Linked DNA regions of Homo sapiens. The protein of the gene in region 3 interacts with the protein of the main gene of each other region in a biochemical or structural test. Each region holds a gene or a part of one and is shown on either strand. Other genes may lie near its edges.

Region 1 (7,026 bases), on a different chromosome or scaffold from region 3:
ATTAGCCGGGCGTGCTGGTGGGTGCCTGTAGTCCCAGCTACTAGGGAGGCTGAGGCAGGAGAATGGCATGAACCCGGGAGGCGGAGCTTGCAGTAAGCTGAGATCGCGCTACTGCACTCCAGCCTGGGCAACAGAGAGAGACTCTGTCTCAAAAAAAAAGAAAAAAAAAAAAAAAAGAAATGAAAATAAAAAAGAAAGTAAAACAGAATCAATCTCAAAGGGGCAAGCAGAGGGGCCCGATCACATGACCCTCACAGAAGGGCAGGTTTTTCAGAGATCAGGGCAGCCTAAACACCAAAAGCACGGAAGAAGAACACGTGAGCATCTCACCACGCTCACATCCCTCTCGGCCTGTCTGTGTGACCACTGAGGTGGGGGCTGGTGGGAGGTGGAGAGACAGACTCTAGCGTGACACCCCCACGCTTCTCCTGCTCCCGACGGGATCTCCCCAGGCTGCTGGGAGGAGCGGCTCTCTAAGTGTATGGCCTGAGTCAGGGGGCACAGCTGGAACTGACGGGCATGGGGCAGGTGGCCTGGGACCTTGGGCGCCACCCTCCCCAGGCACACACATTCGTAATCTTAATTTTCTAGGGGTGGATGATATGCATTCTCCTTGAAAACATGATTTCTGCTAACACTATTCCAGGGTGAAACCCCATCAGACCCCAGAACAAGGAAGGCCCTGCACCCCCACTGCACTGTGCTCTGGGAGCACCACACTTCTTCCTATGGGGCCCGGGACATACTCAGCCGTAAGCCATCTCGATGGTAGCAGCTCCCGGAGTAGGCACCCTCCTGGATCTCCCGCTGCAGGCCAGCAGCCCCGCGCATCACGATCACGGGCGTGGAGGTGACCTGGACGTTCAGCCTTGGCTCCTCTGCTGATGGGCACGTGTCCTCAGGGCCAGCATCCAACGTGGAAGGAACGTGTCCTGGGCTTTCTCTGTCGCTTGCTGCATAATGCTCAGAGGACACCAAACAAACCTCAAGCGGTTCTGTTGGATCATGTCCCACACAGCTCTCCCGGAACCGTCGGCCTTGGCCAAGGTCAACACAGGTGCCGGTCAGTAGTAACAGCTCCCTGTCATCCAGGACACACGACCCCTGTTCCTGGAGACTGCCTACATCTGGATCGGAGCCCACTGCCAAGGAAGAGGGTGTCTCTCTGAGTTCAGACGTAGCACAGGAACAATTTGATGACGTTTGGTCTGTCTGGTCACTGAAAAAGAGTTCCTTGAGGTTCCAGGAAAACGAATTCACATCAACCTCCTGGGCCTCCACTGCTTCCAGGCCCCCAGGGAGGTCCGTGGCCAAGGCATAGCAGGCTGAGGAGCTGCCCGTGCAGCCACCGCACAGGTCTCTGCCTCCCAGATCGCAGGACGACACAGGAGCGGTGACAGCCTGGCACTCTGTCGGAACGAGTTCGGCGTGGGGGACATCCAGGGCTCCTGCAAGGCTCAACTGGGACAGCTGCTCCTTAATCAAGCAGGTCTGCAGCTCTTCTCGGTCGTTTTCCACTCCCAGCCACGGCTCATCTAGAGTAGGTGTCCCAAACGAGAGGCCTGCCATCCCAGAGGGGCTGGGGGCCAAGTCCTGGCTTCGCCACCACAAGCCCCATTCACTCCCATAGCAAGGGCAGTGCATCAGGAGGCTGCCCCCCGCCAGCTGACCCTTGGCCTGGGGCTTGGCCACGGCAGCCCCAGCCCAAAGGTCTGAACCGCTGGGACCACTGACTCCCATCCGCTCTAGCTGGGCCTTCTGACACAGGCCACACATGCCAGCATCACTGCCCCCATCCTCAGCTGGGACTGGAGCTTCAGAATCTTCGCAGGAAGCAAATGGCTTCACATCCACTGGTTCAGACCTGCTTTCTCCCAGAAGATCCTGTCCGGGGCTCTCTATTGCCACAGGTTCCTCTCTCCCCAAGGCAGTGATTTGCTGGTCCTTGGGCAGCGCCTGTTCACCGTGCACTGGCAGGCTTCCTTCTGGGACATTGTCCACCCTGGGGATAATGACATGGGTGACCATCATGTAGGGCCACAGATGAGTCAAAAGGAGAGATTGCACCGATTCTCCATTAGAACTAAGTACAAAGCATTTAATGCCACCAATTTATAACAAGAAAAAGACCAAATTTTGTGACCAAGTTAAAAAATAAAGCACTTAGTCTCAAATTTCTCCAAATTAAGTCCACATTTAGAAATGATTTTGCAGAGAATGCTACCAAAAGCCCAACAGTAAAGTACAGGAGAACTTGCCAATGCTTTGGTCAGCGCTCTCGCTTCATCTCAGGGCCCCCAAACCCCCCGTCAGCCGTGCAGCCTAGCCTCGGCCCCACCTGCAAGGGGAAGTCCGTGCTGCTGCCTTGAGGAGGTGTGAGAGGAAACGAGAGAGAGATTGGAGAGTCCCTGGTAAACTCCACAACAGTAAAAAAACAACTGATTGACTACAAACACCATCCGATTTCACAGCCGACTAGGGAAATGGCTCTCAGATTTGGGAAATGGCTCTCAGATGGGGCCCACACAGAAGGGGCCAGGGGCCAGGGGGCCGGGCGTGGTGGCTCACGCCTGTAATCCCAGCACTTTGGGAGGCCGAGGTGGGCAGATCACTTGAGGTCAGGAGGTTCGAGACCAGACTGGCCAACATGGCAAAGTCCTGTCTCTACTAAAAATACAAAAATTAGCCCGGTGAGGTGGCAGGCACCTATAATCCCAGCTACTTGGAGGCTGAGGCAGGAGAATGGTTTGAGCCTGGGAGGCAGAGGTTGCAGTGAGCTGAGATTGTACCAGCTCACTGGTGAGATGGGTGACAGAGTGAGACTCCGTCTCAAACACAAACAAAAAAAGAAGGGGACACGGGCCGAAAAAGAGAGAGGAGGCTGGTGAGGGCGGCTCCTAAGAGGTGGCACACAATGTCCTCCAGCATTCAGCACATGGTGACCCATGAGGAGGCTGCCACAGTCCAGACAGGATGATCACAGAGCCAAGGGACCCAGGCCTCCTGTCAGCCCAGCCACTGGCCTCCACATGACAGACTGACACTGGGCACCAGATGCACAGAATGTGACCGCACCACCTCACTCGGGGACAGACACACAGGTTAACATCAGCAACCTAATAAAGGTATACCAGAGGCTCAGAAAGAGGACAGGATCGGGCACAGTGGCCCACACCTGTAATCCCAGCACTGTGGGAGGCTGAGCCCAGGAGTTCGAGACCAGCCTGGGCAACATAGTGAGACCTCGTCTCTACAAAACATTTAAAAATTAGCCAGCGTGGTGACACACACCTGTAGTCTCAGCTACTTGGGAGGCTGAAGCGGGAACCTCGCTTGAGCACAGGAGTCTAGGCTGCAGTGAGCTGTGATCGCACCACTGCACTCCAGCCTGGGCAATGGCCAAGACCATCTCAAAAAAAAAAAGACGGAAGAGGAAGGATACAACCCAAGGGTGGGTTCCACAGAGAAAGGGATTGTGAGCCAAGTTCTGAGGAAAAGCAGTTTTCTGAGGGGAACTGAGGGGGAGGCTGAGGGTCTGCGTCTGCCTGCCTCTCTCCCTCCATGTCTCCCGCCTCTCTCCCTCCATGTCTCCCATCTCTCTCTCCCCTGTACCTCCCTCTCCCGCTCTCCATCCATCCCATGCTTGAGACAAACCCCATGCAAATGCTAGGAAACTGCACATCCTCCTGCAGGATCAGGTAAGACAGGAGGCGAATGCACACCACGAGGGTCTCACAAAGCCCCTTGCCAAAGAGTCTGGGCAACTTCTGGGGCACAGTCCAGACACAAAGCTGAGGCCCCTGGGCAGCACTGCATCTTCACCCATGCTCTTGGGGCCTTAGCGGGCTGCTGCAGCCTCAGTACCCGTTCTCTCCACAGTCACCTGGGTCCACGGCCCTTCCATCAAAACCCTTGGGCCAGATGTGTTTGGGGATTTCAGAAAAGTCATATGACCACTTGCTAGGGAGACCCCAGCAGGCTGGGGAGAGGGCTTCACGGGCATCCACTGCCCTGTGTCTGCAGCAAGGCCTCTGAACACTCAAACTGCAGAGGTCAAGGGAAAACCACAAACAGCTTCTCACGTGCTTAGGGCCAATTTGACCGTCCAATGCTTTTAGCATCAATTCTAAGAAAAATATTTCAGTGTTGGGGGCTTTTTGGATTTCATAATTTTGGCTAAGAGATTGTGAAACTGTGGATCTCTGACTTTCAGCATGACAGCAACTCAGGAAACATGAGGACATCCTCCAGCTGCCCTGGCAGCCAGGCATCGCCACGCCACTCAGTTCTGGCCAGCATGCAGTCAGGGCATGAAGGATGTGATCTGCCGACTGCACACAGGCCTTGAGCTGCTGGGACCTCAACCCAGGGCAGCCCCAGGGACCGTAGGTCCTCCAGTGGGGAAGCACCAGGACCTGACCCCCGTGGAGACCCGAGACCCCCACCTGCTGTCTGAGCACATCACCTGGGGTCTCTTCGAGGACCTGATGCCCAGTGTAACAATTCACTCAGCTTCAGCATCCATTTGCTAAAAATCAGACTACACTCCCAGGATTACCAGGAGAACTAAAGGAGACAACTTACGAGGAAGCACCCAACGTAGTCCCTAAAACACAAAAGCACTCCGTACAGCTCACCTCCTTCCTTCATGCTTCCTAACCCTGTTCTGTCTTACTGTTTCAGCTTATTGTCCTGACCAGACTACAATTCTTAGGGACACACCCCAAGTCTTCTGTAATGCTTATTTGTTGAATAAGCGAACGAGTGAGTGAATGACTGAGCGGGGAATGAATGGATAAATCTCTATAGTCATAACTGCACTAGCTGTGCAGTGGATGCTAATCAAACTCTCAGAACTGTGACATCCAGAAACGTCCAATGCAATAGAAAGACTAGGAATTGGCTGATCTTGGGCAACTCCCTTGGTACCACCAAGTCCTGGAAGATGAGTTGTGTCCAAGGTCCTGAGGATAGCAACGGGCCACGTGGCCTCTGTCCACCAAGATGTCCCAGACAACGGGAGCACTGGCAAGGGGGCCCGGCCGCTAGTGCTGTTGAGCACCCACGGGTCAGACTTGGGCCCTCAACCACGGCCGCCCCACTTCAGCTTGGTGGCACCTCTGGAGAGGTGCGCACAGCAATATTATTCATAGTAATATTGAAAACTCACGTGTTGAGCGCCTGCTCTGTTCCACTCGCAGTGGAAGTAGAGCAAATAGAGCCAACAGCTACCCTCTCACGCCACTCAACGCGGACCCACAGTGGCAAAGGGAAAATCAGGGAGGCTAAGCAAACAAGAGAAAGCACCGGCACATCGGCCAGTGGGAAAGTGGCCCATGAGCTAGGGTGCCATCCAGGAGGCTTCGGTTCCGAGGAGGCCTGTAGAGGAAGATCTGCAGGACATGTGTGTGCGTACACATACACACACATTTAGGACACTGTGTATGGTATAATCCCAGCCGTGCTCAGGGAACAGAAGCAGTTACATGTGAGCACACATATGCACATGCACACATAGAAGTATAATATACAACTATAGTTAAATGCACAAGAAAGAAGGCCTGGAAGGCTCTAACTGCTGACTGCGGTCCCCTGGGGGAAAGAGTAGGATTGGAGGAGGGGGATTGGAAGACGGCCAGGGGAACTATTGCTTTTACCATTATTCTTCTATAATTAAAAAAACACATATGCATGTATTACATTTTTTTTTTTTTTTTGAGACGGAGTCTCACTCTGTCGCCCAGGCTGGAGTGCAGTGGCGCGATCTAGGCTCACTGCAAGCTCCGCCTCCCAGGTTCACACCATTCTCCTGCCTCAGCCTCCCGAGTAGCTGGGACTACAGGCGCCCGCCACCATGCCTGGCTAATTTTTTGTATTTTTAGTAGAGACGGGGTTGCACCGTGTTAGCCAGGATGGTCTCCATCTGCCGACCTCATGATCCACCCACTTCAGCCTCCCAAAGTGCTGGGATTATAGGCGTGATCCACCGCGCCTGGCCCATGCATTACATATTTTTAAACATACATACATACTTTATATGTATCTATTACATATTTTTTAAATAATTTCAAGACTAGAAAACACAACTATGTGGATAAATATCACAGACACAGCAATAAGCAGAAGGCAGACAGAAGGAAATGCATGCGTCAGGCTCAACGGCAGGCAGTCTAACCTCTGCCCTGACCCAGGGCAGCAGGGTGTAGGGGGCACAGTGCAGGAAGGGACCCAGGGTCTGCAGGCAGCCAAGAAAGGGTCCTGGGCCACCTGGGCACCTACAGTTTGGGCACCTTTACTGCATGCTGTGCATAAGAAAAGATTCTGGGTCAGGTATGGTGGCTCACACCTGTAATCCCAGGACTTTGGGAGGCCAAGGCGGGTGGACCATGAGGTCAAGGGATCGAGACCAGTCTGGCCAACATAGTGAAACCCCGCCTCTAGTAAAAATACAAAAATTAGCCGGGCGTGGTGGCAGGTGCCTGTAGTCTCAGCTACTCAGGAGGCTGAGGCAGGAGAATCACTTGAACCAGGGGGCAGAAGTTACAGTGAACCAAGATCACGCCACTGCACTCTAGCCTGGGCAGCTGAGTGAGACTCCATCTCAAAAAAAAAAAAAAAAAAAAGATTCCGAAGAAGAAAATGGGTTAAAAATACACACACACGTGCTATGTACAATACGACTATGAGAATAGAACAAGTTTTTATTTCTACTTTTCCAAATGTTCCTAATTCTCTAATATAAACTTTCTTTACTCTAAATAGAATATTTTAAAATGTGCAAAGAGAACAGCTTCATATGACTTTGAAAATGATAAAATTAATCCCAGCACTTTGGGAGGCCAAGGCGGGTGGATAACAAAGTCAGGAAATCGAGACCATCCTGGCCAACATGGTGAAACTAAAAAAAATACAAAAAAGTAACCGGGCGTGGTGGCGGGCGCCTGTAGTCCCCAGCTACTCGGGAGGCTGAGGCAGGAGAATGGTGTGAACCCGGGAGGCGGAGCTTGCAATGCAATGAGCAATGAG
Region 2 (7,110 bases), on a different chromosome or scaffold from region 3:
AGCCCAGGACTTTCTTCGACTCTTAAGAAAAGAGAAGCAAAGTAACTGGCACAGATTGGAGAGGATCAAGGAACCCCGAGCTGGATACATACAAACTTTGGGTTAACATGGATGATTAAATACATATGTTTATGTGAACCACCTCCCAAATATGCTCCACTATAATGACACAAGACAAAGGGCAGGGGGAGACCAATTGCAAGGTGGCGCAAATGAGAGATGCTACCAAGGGTGGCGGGGGAGAGAGGGGAGCAGTTGTCAAGTTAGGAGGCAACAGGCTGAGGGACAGGGACCAGCAGACGGGGAGGGAGGGGCTGAAGCAGAAGTGTCCAGTGTCTGGAGGGATGGGGCCAGAAAGGCAAGGGGCATCCTGAAGAAGCTATACCTGGGGAGGGCAGCTCTCTCCCCACCTGCTCCCCAATTCATCAGCCAGGAATGCCCCATCCACCCCACCCCAGGGAGGAGGACAGAGGACTTTCGTTTGGGAGCATTGAATGGTTCAGAGATTCTGCAACTCTGCGGTCCCCAACTAAACTGCTCATTGTTTCAAGCAGTCCCTGTTGGGTAAATGTCCCCCATTGTAACCGGACTCGGATTCCACCGCTTGAAAGCCAAATACAAGAGGAGAGGTTTGGTGGGAGGAAAAGTGGTTTTAACTAGAGCCAGCAAACCAAGAAGATGGTGAATTGTTGTTTTAAAGCATTCAATTATCTCAAATTTTAAAATTTATCATAGGATTCTGAAAGGAAAACTTGGTATGGGACATACGTGGGAGCAGTGCAGGGTACAGGGTCTATGTGTCTTGATCCAATGGCTGTCTTGAGTATCACCTATCCTGAGGTCTGGTTGGTGTTATCTTTCCTTCGGCCAGATGGTGGTGGGTGAATTGTTTCGACTCCCCCTAAGTTGGAGGATTCCGCAGGGGTTCCGTGTCTGGTTTTTGTTTCAAGATTAGCCCCTGGAATTCCCAAATAAGCATAGAGTTAGATAAGCGGGCATGGTGCAAAGGAGTGTCTAGTGGGAAAGGGAGAGAAGCAGAGTTTCAAAGTACATTTCAAGGTTACATTTTAAGACTAAAGAAAAAGCCTTAAAATGCATTTTTAAAGCTGATTTAATGCTTGGCTACACTAGGCTGTGGCCAGTGTGCAGTGTGGCTGCTCTTGGATCAGGTGATGTTTCATCAGCTGTGTCCAGGGAGGGCAGGGCCATGTGGCAGAACCTGGGACCTCTGTGTGAGGGACTACCTTGGCCCCTGTCCTTAGCAGGAAGCTATGGTAAGGAACCCTTAGGGAGACATTAAATTGGGGAGACCGTCCCTGCCAATCCTTTAACCTCCCCAGCCTCAGCGACCTCAGTTGGAAAGTGGTGGTAATAATACTACCACTGACCAGGTGTGGTGGCCAGACATTCCACACTTTGGCTTCAGCCGCTCCCTCCCCACTCTACTGTAATCCCAGCACTTTGGGAGGAAGAGGTAGGCGGAACCTGAGGTCTGGAGTTGAGACCAGCCTGGTCAACATGGTGAAACCCCATATCTACTAAAAAGAAAGTACAAAAAATTAGCCAGGTGCAGTGGCACACGTGTGTGGTCCCAGCTACTCGTGGGTCTGAGGCATGAAAATTGTTTGAGCCTGGGAGGCAGAGGTTCCATTGAGTGGAGATCGAGCCACTGCACTCCAGCCTGGGTGATAGAACGAGATTCTGTCTCAAAAAAATAAAAATAAAATAATAATAATAATACCACTGCCTGCCACACTAAGATTGTCTGATTAGATGACAGAATGAATGCAAAAGTACTTTGTGAATCATAAATGTTTTCATCAATATTAGTTATAATGACAATTGCTCCTTCTCCTAATAAATGTATTGCCTTTCTTTAGGAATAAATATAACAAGAAATGTGTAAGATATATATGAGAAAAATAATAAAATTCACCTGAAGGACATAAAAGAAGACCAAAATAAATGAAACAACACATACTTCTAGATGAGAAAACTCAATATTATAAAGAGGTTAGTTCTCTAAAATGAATCCCTAAACCCACAAAGTCAATGTATTTCCAATGAAATTGTCAACAGCATTATTTTCCGAAGTGGGATGAGTAGTGCTAAGATTTATAAGAAAGCCAACATTCCAGAGCAGTGGGGAAGGGATTGCTTCACCACCAAATAGCCATATTAGAGATTCCCTTGCACCATACCCAAACCACCATCTCCCAGGACCCGGGAGAGCAGAAAAGAGGAATGAGAAGAAAGGCGAGGATGTGAGGTGTGCCCTCATAATGGCGGTGCACGCAGCACAAGCAATTGCAGAAAGACTAAAGTACTGAACAAATAGAAAACTTGGAAAAATATTAGAAGGAAATGTGGGAGAACATTTTTGCAATTTGGGGATTGGAAACGGTTTTCTTAACAAGATATAAAAACCCCAAAACAAGAAAACAAAGGTTGAAATTCATAAAAACTAGATACTTCTGTATGATGAAAGACACGATTAATCAAGTTGTTAAGTTTAGCAATAGACTAGGGGAGATATCATAGTATATTTAACAGACAAAGGATTAATAGATACTACAGATGAAATATAAAATAGTTTCTCCAAGTCCATAGGCAGAAGATAATCCAATAGCAACATAGTTAAGTAATGTAAACAAATCATCCTTAGAAGAAGAAATGCAATCACCAAGAAACACATGAAAAGGTGTCCAGCATTTTGCAATTCAAGCAACAATGAGGTGACAGATCGGCAAAAAACTCATAAAGATTTATCATCTGAAGGATTGGCCAAGATAAAGCCAAACTTCTCGTGTTGGCAGAAGAAACTGGTGAAGCCATGTGAAGAGGCCACGTGGTCCTGCCTACCAAGATGTAAAATGTGTACAGCATTTGAACTAGCAATTCAGCCTCCAGGAGCCATCCAGAAGAAACACTGACACACACTTAGACTCCGGTGAAATTCAAGGACTTCTGCCACAGCCTGCTTCGTAATAGTGAAAATCTGAAACTGCCTCAATGACCGTCAATAGGAAGTTGATTTTAAAGTGTTACAGCACATCTGTCTGGAGAGATCGCACTGGCCACTCCTCCTCACCCCCTCTGCTGGACCTCTGAGCGTAGGTGGCCTGGAGCTGGGTCCTGAGCCCTCTTTGGTCTATACCGACACTACCCAATATGGTAGCCACCAGTCACGCTGGACACTTGAAAAGTGGCCGATCCTGACTGAGAAGGGCCACGAGTGGGAAAAACACACCAGACCTCAGTGACTTAGGCAGAAGTATGTTTTGTTCCAGACTATTGACTGAGCCCGCAGCTGAGTTGGCTCCAGCACCCTGGCCCCCTGCTCCATCCACTCACTGGGACTCCCCACTGCACAGGGCAACCTCTCCAGGGGCACTTGGGCTGCGAAGGGGAGAGTGGGTGGCATCCCAGGCTGAAGCTTCCTGAGCAGGGCCAGAGGAGGAGCCAGTCCCTGTGGGCCTCTGTTCTGACAGTGTCAACCTCAGCCAGGCTTGTGTGGGCCAGGTGTACTGTTCTGGTTCAGATTTCAAGGAGATAGTCAGGGCAGGCCGCGCCAAAGCCCTCCGATGGGCTCCCCTACTGCCTGGCAGACCTGTCCAGCTTTGGACTCTGGCCCTGCGACCTGGAAGTCAGGCTGCCAAGAGGTCCAGGCAGTGGCCTCCACTGTGGAGGGTCTCTGGAGAGTTTACAGCCCTAGATAGGGGGGTTAGGGATGTGAGATGGTCCCAGGGGCCTGCTCCTGAGCCACGCCAAGCTGCCTGCTCCCTTTCCTCTGCTTCCAGACTCACGGGATCCTCTGCTCATCAGAACAGGAGTGTGGGAGACCCTGAGACACTGCCCCAGGATCTGAACAGGTGGCAAAGGCTTAACAGGCTAGCGGTCACTGTAGTGACAAGGCGATTGAGTGGTCACCATGGTGATGGGGATGGAGGCTCTTTGCCACCAGTCCCAGTTTTATGCATGGCAGCTCTAATGACAGGATGGTCAGCCCTGCTGAGGCCACTCCTGGTCACCATGACAACCACAGGCCCTCTCAGGAGCACAGTAAGCCCTGGCAGGAGAATCCCCCACTCCACACCTGGCTGGAGCAGGAAATGCCGAGCGGCGCCTGAGCCCCAGGGAAGCAGGCTAGGATGTGAGAGACACAGTCACCTGCAGCCTAATTACTCAAAAGCTGTCCCCAGGTCACAGAAGGGAGAGGACATTTCCCACTGAATCTGTCTGAAGGACACTAAGCCCCACAGCTCAACACAACCAGGAGAGAAAGCGCTGAGGACGCCACCCAAGCGCCCAGCAATGGCCCTGCCTGGAGAACATCCAGGCTCAGTGAGGAAGGGTCCAGAAGGGAATGCTTGCCGACTCGTTGGAGAACAATGAAAAGGAGGAAACTGTGACTGAACCTCAAACCCCAAACCAGCCCGAGGAGAACCACATTCTCCCAGGGACCCAGGGCGGGCCGTGACCCCTGCGGCGGAGAAGCCTTGGATATTTCCACTTCAGAAGCCTACTGGGGAAGGCTGAGGGGTCCCAGCTCCCCACGCTGGCTGCTGTGCAGATGCTGGACGACAGAGCCAGGATGGAGGCCGCCAAGAAGGAGAAGGTATCTCGCCCTCCATTGGGCATTCTGGGAGTGTTTGCTTGCCTGTCCCCAACATTCCATGGTTTGTTTGAGCCTCAGAATCTGATTTTATGCACAGGCTCTTTGAGAAGGGTCTTGCCAGGGGTGCCTTCTGGGGCAGGAAGGCCCCTACTGCCTGGCAGACCCATCCAGCTTTGGACTCTGGTCCTGCGACCCGGAAGTCAGGCTGCCAAGAGGTCCAGGCAGTGGCCTCCACTGGGGAGGGGCTCTGGAGAGTTTAGAGCCCTAGATGTGGGGGTTAGGGACATGAGGTCTTGTGGACAAAGCCCACTACCTGATTTTGAGACAACACTCACTAGACATGGTGACAAGTCAAAGATGCCTTGCCTCCTACCAGGAATCACTTCGCAGGGAGCCCGAGGGCTGCTGTGGCCTGCTGAGGAGTGCAGGGCAGTTACTTTTTCCAAAAACAAAGAGAAATCCAGGCATGCTCTGAGCCAGCCCTGAGCCCAGCAGTGAGCAAGGAGAGAGCTGGAGACAGGGGACTTTGCTGTGAAACACTGGGGGGAATGTGCCTGCATCACCCCAGCTGGGGGCCCAGGCAGAGTGGGGGAGAAGGGGTAAGTGGGCAGAGCCAGTCACTTTGGGCATGCTTCCCTCTCGCCTCTGTGTGAAATGACCAGGTCAGCATAAACCCCGGGCTGGCTGTGCTTCTGGCAGAGCTAATGATGTTAGGAGGAAAACAACCAACCCAAGTGAGAGGGTGCGCAGCCAGACAGCTGGACCGGCCGAGGCCCCAACCAAGTCCCAGATCTGCCTGTCACTGGTGCTATGGCAGCAATTTGGATGAGAAATCCTGCCCAAAGGGCCCCTTCAGGCCACCCGGGGAGAAGGAAGCGGCTGTCTTTGGCATGACCAGAAAGATGGCTCGGAGCTAGGGAGAGGTGGACATGTGGGCTGTGGAGATCTGGCACTTTCCCCAAACAAGGAGAGAAAGCATAGTGTGCCTATGTGTGAATGTGCTATGTGTGCATGTTTGTGCCTGTGCATACCTGCATGTGTACATGCATGTGCACATATGTGTGCACAGGGAATCACTTTAATAAAGGCCACAGCAGAGCTGTCCCTGAGCCCCTTGCATTCACAGTGGCATGTGAGTGAACCACCTTCTTAGGCTGGGCATCCAGTCTCAGACTCTGGGGCTGCCCATGCCCCATCCTTTATCTGCTCCACGTGTGAGGGGTTGCTGGTCCTGACCAGGGCCAGCTGTGAACCCCAGAATCCTGGGAAGTCACTGACATTCTTGTCAGGGCCAAGAGTGGAGCAAGGCAATGCCTCGGGCACAAACTTTAAGGGGTCACCAGAAACATCAATCATCAAGATATATGCTATTTTAAATAATCAAAATGAATGCAAAAAAAATTTATGATGGACAACATACCAAATTCTAAACAAAGGCAGGATGAGTATCACTGGCTTCTGCACTTTTCTCCACCCAGTCTACCCCTCTTCTAGTGCCTGGATCGCAGGGTGCCAAGGCCTGGATGAGGGAAGCGTGGAGCTGCAATGGCCACTCCTGTCTGCCTGTTCTGGCTGCACAGAGGACTCAGTCCTTGTCTTGGGGGAACCTATCTTGGTTTTAGGGTCATCCTAAGGATCTGATGTTTTCCAAGTGAGCTGGCTGTCCAGGCCCACCCAGGTTCAGTCCAGTCCTGTGTCTCTGGGAAGTGCTGCCCCTACCCCAAGCCAGTGTTTGACCTTGGAGCAATGAGCAATGCCCTCCTTCCACTTTCAAAGTTGTCCCCAAGACGTCAGCTGTGGTTGTCTCTGTGCAGACACCGAGGAGGAACTGTCTTCTTTCTCCTTTTGGTTGCTTTGGAGGAAAGTAAAGTGTTGCTGGTTTCCCTCTTTCTACTTCTTTGATTGAGAGCAGCCGTCTTGCCGGTACCAACCTTCCAGATCTTACCTGTGGTTGCAGGAGCCTGTGGCCTCAGTCCTGTGCCCAGTGACTTCTCCATGTGGATGTCAGCTCCTTAGGGGCAAGCCTGATTCCACTGACACTACTCCCACCCCTCATAAGCCCCTTCTTACCAGCTGCAGTTGCCTGGTACCCCACCATCGCTGACTCATTCCTTTGGCATCAAGGTTCATCCCTTACTGGGCCACCACTTCTGGGTGGCCTGAAATAGGGCCCTGGGCATCCCTCTTGGGGACCTTTTGGTCTATATTTTCACTCTCACCTCACTAAGGACAGATGAGTAAATCTGGTTAACTTTGCCTGATAGATTTGGTGACCTTTTTTCAGGAAGGAGCCTGGAAAGATGAGATTCAGGTGTATTGGTCAGCTTAGACTGCCATAAGAGAATACCATCCACTGATGGCTTAGAAACAACAGAAATCTATTTCTCACTATTCTAGAGGCTGGACGTCCAAGATCAGATGCCAGCATGGTCAGGTTGCAGGGAGGGCTCTCTTCCTGACTTGCAGACCGCCACCTTCTTGCTGTGTCCTCA
Region 3 (7,026 bases):
AACCTGCTAAACTTTCTTATGAGTTTTGATAATTTGTATGTAAATGACAGCTTTCATTTTCCCCACAACCCTCATTTTTATCTTTCTTATATTATTACACTGCTAAGACCTCCCGCCTTTAATATACACACACGAGATGTGCAGTACACGTTGAAAAGAAATGTTAATAATGTATATTCTTATGCTGATCCCGATTTTAAGTTTCACCATTGAGCAAATTTGCTGTAGTTTTTTTGGTAGATATCATTTAATAGGTTAAAGACGTTCCTGTTTATTCTGAGTTTGCCAATACAATTTTTAAAAGATGAATGAATATTGAATTTTATTAAACATGTTTTCTGTATTCACTGAAATGACATTAATTTTCTATTTTAACCCATTAATGTGGTACAATACATTAGAGTTTTTCTTGTGTTGAAATAATCTTGCAGTCCTGGGATAAATAAAAACTTCTGAATTTCTTTCACTAATTTTTTGTTTAGGATTTTAGCATTTTGCTCAGGAAAGAGATTGGCCTGTGATTTTTCCAAGAGTGTCAAGATTACACTAACCTCATAAAATCAGGTGGGAACTATTTCCTTTCATTCTGTCCTCTGACAGAGGTTGTCTGCAGAACTAGCCATTCCTCAAATATTTTACCTGGCAGCATTTCCAGGTAAAATATCTGGACCTGGTGTCTCCTTTAACATTTTAACTGATACAATCTCTTTTATCAGTTATAGAGTCCTTTCAGTTTGCTATTTCCACTAAAGTTAGCTTTCTTAAGCTTTCCTAAGTTATGGTTTTCTATGAATTTTTCTACTTCACATAGTTTTCAAATTTATTTTGTGTAAAGTTCTTATCTTTGTATCTTTTTTATCTCTGTTGCATTTGTAGTTATAGCTTCTCTTTCATTATAATATTATTTATTTGCACCTTTTTTCTCTTGATCAATCTTGCTATAAGTTTGACACTTTTATAATTCTAAAATAATCAACTTTTGACTTTTTGATCCTTTTTTATCTTTATTTTCTATTTAACTATTTTTTCATCATTATTCTGTTTCTCCTACTTTCTTTGGATTTATTCTGTTGTTCTTTTTTAACTCATAGAGTTGCCTGCTGCTCAGCTCATTCATTTTCAGACTTTCTTCTTTTCTAATTTAAGTGTCCAATGAGATAATTGGCCTACTAAACAGGGCTGATATTCCACAGATTCACAATCGTATGGCCATATGAATTTTCAGAATATTTCTAGTCCATTTTATAAATAGGCACTCTCCCAGGCTTTTTTAGTCTCTCCAACACTTACCCAGTTACCCTGGCCACCTCAATTCCTTTCCCAGGATAGCCAGGACCTACTGATTATCATCTAGCAACTAAAGGATTAATGCCTACCACAGCAGGAGGCCTCCAGTACTTGGTGCCAGCCCTTGGACCAGCTTCTGTTTTGATAGATCAGTGCTCTTGTCATTTCTATTTTAATTCCATTCTGGTCAGAGAACAAACTTTGTATTATTTCAGTTCTTTGAAATCTGTTGAGACTTGCTTTATGGACCAACTTATGGACAATCTGGTAAATGTTCCAAGAGCACTTGAAAAGAATGTGCGTTTTACAGTTGTGTTTAGTGTACTATATACCTCGATTAAGTTGTGTTTGTTAATCTGGCTCAAATGTTCTATATTCTTCTGGGGTTTTGGCTGCCTGTTGATATGGAAAATTTGTTAATGTTTCCTTGTAATTCTGTCAATCTTGAAAGTTCGTAGTTACAAACAAATTTAGAATTGCTATATCTTCCTTGTGAATTGAATATTTTATCACCATGTAAGGAAATTATTAACTCTGGTAATACCTGGTAATTTGGTATCATTGATGTTTTTGCCCTATAATCAATCTTTTTTCTCATATTAATATACCTACATTAGCTTTATTTAGCTTAATATTTGCCTGGTATGTGTTTTCCTACATTTAAAAAATTGTTTTTGATAGAGATATAATTCACATACCATAAAATTCACCATTTTGAAGTATACAGTGGTTTTGAGTATATTCACATAGTTGTGTAACCATCACCACTAATTCCAGGACATTTTCTTTATGCCAAAAAGGAATTCCATACTCTAGACTCACTCCAGATGACCCTCTCCCCTTAGCCCCTGGCAACCACTAATCTACTTTCAGTCTCAATGAATTTGCCTATTCTGGACATTTTATATAAGGGGAATCATACAATATGTGGCCTTTTGTATCTGGCTCGTTTCTTTGGGCATGTTTTCAAGGTTAATCCATGTTGTAGCATGCAAAGTCACAAAGATATATGCCTAGGCTTTTTTCTAAGAGTTTTATAGTCTTGGCTCTTACATTTAGGTTTTTCAATTTATTCTGAGTTAATATTTGCATGTGGTGTGAGATGGGAATCCAGCTTCGTTCTTTTGCATGTGGCTATCCAGTTGTCCTAGCAGCATTTTTTGAAAAGACTCTTCTTTCCCCTACTTAATTGTCTTGGCACCCTTGATGAAAATCAGGTGACTATAAGTTGAAGGGTTTACTTCTGGGCTCTCAGTTCTATTCCATTTGTTTATATGTATCTCTACCCTTATACCAGTACCACACATTCTTGATTATTGTAGTTTAATTGTAATTTTGAAATTGGGAAGTATGTCTTCTAATTTTGGTCTTTTTCAGATTGTTTTTATGATTGTTTTGGCTATTCTAGGTCCTTTGCATTTCCATATAAATTTTAAGACCAATTTATTAATTTCTGCAAAGAATTAAGCTGAAACTTTGACAGAAGCTGCATTTAATCTATAGATTAGTTAGGGAATATTACCATCTTAACAATAATAAGTTTTAGGTCCCTGAACATGAGATGTTGTTGCATTTACTTAGGTCTTTAATTATATTCACCAATGTTTTGCAGTTTTCAGAGTGTTTTACATTTTTTAAAGTGTTCTTTTAAGCATTTTATTGTTTTGATGCTATTGTAAATAAAATTGTTTTACTTAATTTCATTTTGTTTGCTCATGGCTACTTTATAGAAATGTAATTGATTTTTATATATTGATCTTATATTCTGCAACATTGCTGGACTCATTTATTAGGTCCAATGGTGTTTTTTAGTGCATTCCTTGGGATTTTCTATATACAAGATTATGTTATCTGCAAATAGAAATAATTTCATCTCTTCCTTTCCAATCCAGATGCCTTTTATTTTCTTTTTCTTACCTAATTACCTTGGCTATAACCTCTACTAGAATGTTGAAAAGATGAGATGAAAACAGACATCCTTCTGTTGTTACTGATCTTGGCAGGCGGCATGGGAGAAACTATTCAATCTTTCACCATTAAGTGTGATATTCACTGTGGGTTTTTCATTGGTGTCTTTTATTAGGTTTAGGGCCTTTCCTTCTAGTTTTAATTTGTTGTTGGTTTTATCATGAAGGGGTATTTAATTTCCCAAATGCTTTATCTGTGCCTATTATGATGATCATTTGGTTTTTTTGTCCTTAATTCTATTGATGTGATCTGTTGCATTAATTGATTTTCAAAGGTTAAATCAAGCTTGCATTCCTATAATAAATCTAACTTGATTGTGATGTAAAAAGTATAAGTATAATATATACATATATATAATGTATACATATAAATCCTTTTATACATTCCTGGGTTCAGTTTGCTAGTGTTTTGTGGGGATTTTTACATCCATATTCACAACAGCTATTGGTCTATAATTTTCTTTTCTTCTAATATATGTGCCTAACTTTGGTAGCACGGAAATACTGGCCTCATAGAATGAGTTGGGAAGTGCTTCTTCCTCTTCTACTTTTTGAAAGAGCTTTTGAAGAATCGTATTATTCTTTAAATGTTTGTAGAATTCACCAGTGAAACCATCTAATCCTGGACTTTTCTTTCTGGCAAGGTTTTTCATTACTTATTCAACCCCTTGTTATAGATCTATTTAGATTTCATTTCTTTTTTAGTCAGTTTTGAGAGTTTGTATCATTCTAATAATTTATCTATTTCACCTAAGGCATTTATTGTGTTGGCATACAGTTTATGATTGTTCATAATATTCCCTTATAATTCTTTTTATTTTCATAAAGTCAGTAGTAATGTCTCCTCTTTTTTTCCTGAATTTATTAATTTGAGTTTTCTCTTTTTTTTCTTGGTCAGTCTCACTAAAGGTTTGTCAAGTTTATTAATTTTTTCAAATAACCAACTTTTGATTTTGTTGATTTTTTTCTAATGTTTTCCTAGTCTCTGTTTTATTATTTTCACCTCTAATCCTTATTATATCCTTCTTCTGTTTCCTTTAGGTTCCCATATTTGTGAATTTCCCAAAGTTCTCTCTGTTATTAATTTTTTATTTTACTCCATTATGATTGGAGAACATACTTTATATGATTTCCATTCTTCCAAATTTATTGAAGCTTCTTTTATGGCCTAGAATATTGTCTCTCTTGGAGCATGTTTGATGTACACTTTGGAAAAATGTATAGTCTGCTGTTTGGAGATGGAGTGTTTTACAGATGTTTGTTATTACTACTTTGTGTTGAAGTCCTCTATTTCCCTGTTGTTGATCTTCTATGTAGTTGTTCTATCCATTATTGAAAGAGTGGTCTTGAAGTTTCCAACTATTGTCAGTGGATTGTCTATTTCTCCCTTCAATTCTGCCAGTTTTGCTTCATGTATTTGGCAGCTCTGTTGTTTAGGCATATACGTTTATACTTGTGATATATTCATTATGGATTGACCCTTTTGTCATTATTGAATGTCCCTATATATCTCTAGTAATGTTTTTGAACATCCATTTTGTCTCATATTAGTATGGTCACTCCAAATTTCTTGTGGTTGTTGTTTGCATGATGTATTACTTACGTTATTTTACTTTTAATCTATTTGCTTCTTTCTCTTTTTTCTTCTTTCTTTTTTAGAATAGAGATGGAGTCTCACTATGTTGCCCAGGCTGGTCTCAAACTTCTGGACTCAAGGGATCCTCCCACCTTGGTTTCCCAAAGTGCTCGGATTATAGGCGTGAGCCACCAGGCCTGCCTTGTATCTTTCAGTCTAAAACCTATCTTCTGTAGGCAGCATGCAGTTGGATCTTGTTTGTTTGTATTCAGTTAGATATTCTCTACCTTTTGATTGGGTTGATTAATCTGTTCTGATTTAAAATCATTATTGATATAGTTGGTTTAAATATGCAGTTTTATTTTTCCATAGAGCTCATGTCTTTTTCTCTCTATTCTTCCTTTACTGCTTTCTTTTGCATTAAATGAATTATTCTAGTTTAACTTTTTAATTCATTTGATCATTTTTTATTATATATTTTTTAGGTATATTCTTCGTGGTTGTTCTAGGGCTTTTCACATACATCATACATCAGTGTGCTTCAGATTTGTACTAATTTAATTTCAATGAGATATAAAAATTTTACTCATATATAGCTCTCTTTCACCTTCCTTTTTGAGCTATTATAATATATATATTATATCTGTATATGCTAAAAACTAAATAATACATCATTATAAGTATTATTTTATATAATTTTATGTTTTAAGGAAGCTGAGAAAATTAAGGAGAACATGTATGTATTTATTATTTTCTATTATTTTCATTTGTTCCTGTGGGTTTGAATTACCTTCTGGTATCATTTCCTTATTTCTATATAACTCTTTGCTTTGTGACTTGGCTAGGCTATTTTTAAAGTATGTTTCCCTGCAGTGTGAACCCTTCAGTGTTGCTTCTTGGAGTGCATAGTTTTTGGCTTGCAGGTAATTTGGGCTTTCTTTGACTTTTTCCCAGTCTCTCTATTAAGCTGTCAGCCCACATGGGGGTATTACACTCTAGGCTCCACTAATTACTAGCTGAATGCTGTATTTTGTTTTTGTTTTTTGTTTGTTTGTTTGTTTGGCAGTGTCCTGAAGCATGCATTGCCCAGCAGCCTTATCTAATTAAACTCTAGCAGGAGTAGTTTGTGAAGTAAGTCTTGGAGGTTTCTTCATACCCCAGAAGGGCTCTTCTTACCTGTCCCTCTCTCTCTTGTTCTCTCTGATGAACAAGCTGGCCTATGTTGCTGTTAGTTAAGTGAACTTGTAGTTTTTGAGAACATCCTTGGGCTTGAGCTTCTTTGTACTATGTTAAAAATAAAGTTAGTTTTGGGGGGAGAGTTTCAGAGCTCTCTCATCTTATGAATTTCTTCTCTCCATGGGTATACTGTCTGAGCACTGTTCTGGGTGCTGGGCGAGACAGCAGCTTCTGGTCTTAGTTTGCCTATCCTGGTGTGGAACCTACCCTGTGAGCAAGATGGAATGAGGGTAATCAGGACCTCAGTATTCTTAGCCTATTGCACCTGGTATATAGCCTCCATTCTATGAGTAAAAACTGGGAGGAGGAAGGGATCCTCCAACCTCTTAACCACACTTGCCAGGAATTTAGCCTCTGCAATTCTGAGCTGAAGGGAATGCTAAATGCTAGCTCTCTGCTCCTTCCAGTAAGATGCCAAAGTATTGATGGGACATTCTCTCCAAGACGAAAGGGAGCTTCATCTTGGCTATACACACCTTAAGTGGAGCTTCTATCAAGCTAAGCTTGGAGCCAGTAGTGAGGGGACAGTAGTAAGGTCGGGAACAGTAGCATGGCACATGTATCAAAGACTGTGTTCTTACCACATTTCAGTAGATTTTCTTGAATAAAAATATCTTCATGTACTGTATTCCATTAAGACAATTTCCAGAGATTTTAAAAGGTTGTTGTGTTGTAATTTTGCCAGCTGAGCTTGTTTTATTAGAGAATGGGTCTTTAGAGCTCCTCATGCTGTCATGCCAGAAATGAAAGTCTCAAGATTGTCTTTGTGTGTTGATCTTGTATCTTGCAGCCTTGATGAACTCACTTGTTAGTTCGAGGAATTTCTGTAGTTTAGGGGGATATTTCTATGTAGACAATCATGACATTTGCAAATAGGGATTTTTTAAAAATTATTTTCCAAACCGTATGCCTTTTATTTCCTTTTATTGCCTTATTGCAGTGGTTAGAACTTCTAGTACT

The links. The genes of interacting proteins can lie anywhere in the genome.
Region 1: of the proteins of PFKFB1 (region 3) and PASK, one has a biochemical effect on the other in vitro, tested with the Homo sapiens proteins (one study listed by IntAct).
Region 2: the proteins of PFKFB1 (region 3) and GCK form a complex in vitro, tested with the Homo sapiens proteins (one study listed by IntAct).

Annotation. Positions count from the first base shown.
Region 1 is NC_000002.12:241,125,450-241,132,475, forward strand, and holds part of PASK (PAS domain-containing serine/threonine-protein kinase), read right to left. Parts: intron 2,003-7,026; coding exon 747-2,002; intron 1-746. UniProt on the Homo sapiens protein: Serine/threonine-protein kinase involved in energy homeostasis and protein translation. Phosphorylates EEF1A1, GYS1, PDX1 and RPS6.
Region 2 is NC_000007.14:44,186,417-44,193,526, reverse strand, and holds the start of GCK (hexokinase-4), read left to right. Parts: upstream 1-4,087; 5' UTR 4,088-4,573; coding exon 4,574-4,618; intron 4,619-7,110. UniProt on the Homo sapiens protein: Catalyzes the phosphorylation of hexose, such as D-glucose, D-fructose and D-mannose, to hexose 6-phosphate (D-glucose 6-phosphate, D-fructose 6-phosphate and D-mannose 6-phosphate, respectively).
Region 3 is NC_000023.11:54,984,177-54,991,202, reverse strand, and holds part of PFKFB1 (6-phosphofructo-2-kinase/fructose-2,6-bisphosphatase 1), read left to right. Parts: intron 1-482; exon of another isoform or gene 483-564; intron 565-7,026. UniProt on the Homo sapiens protein: Synthesis and degradation of fructose 2,6-bisphosphate.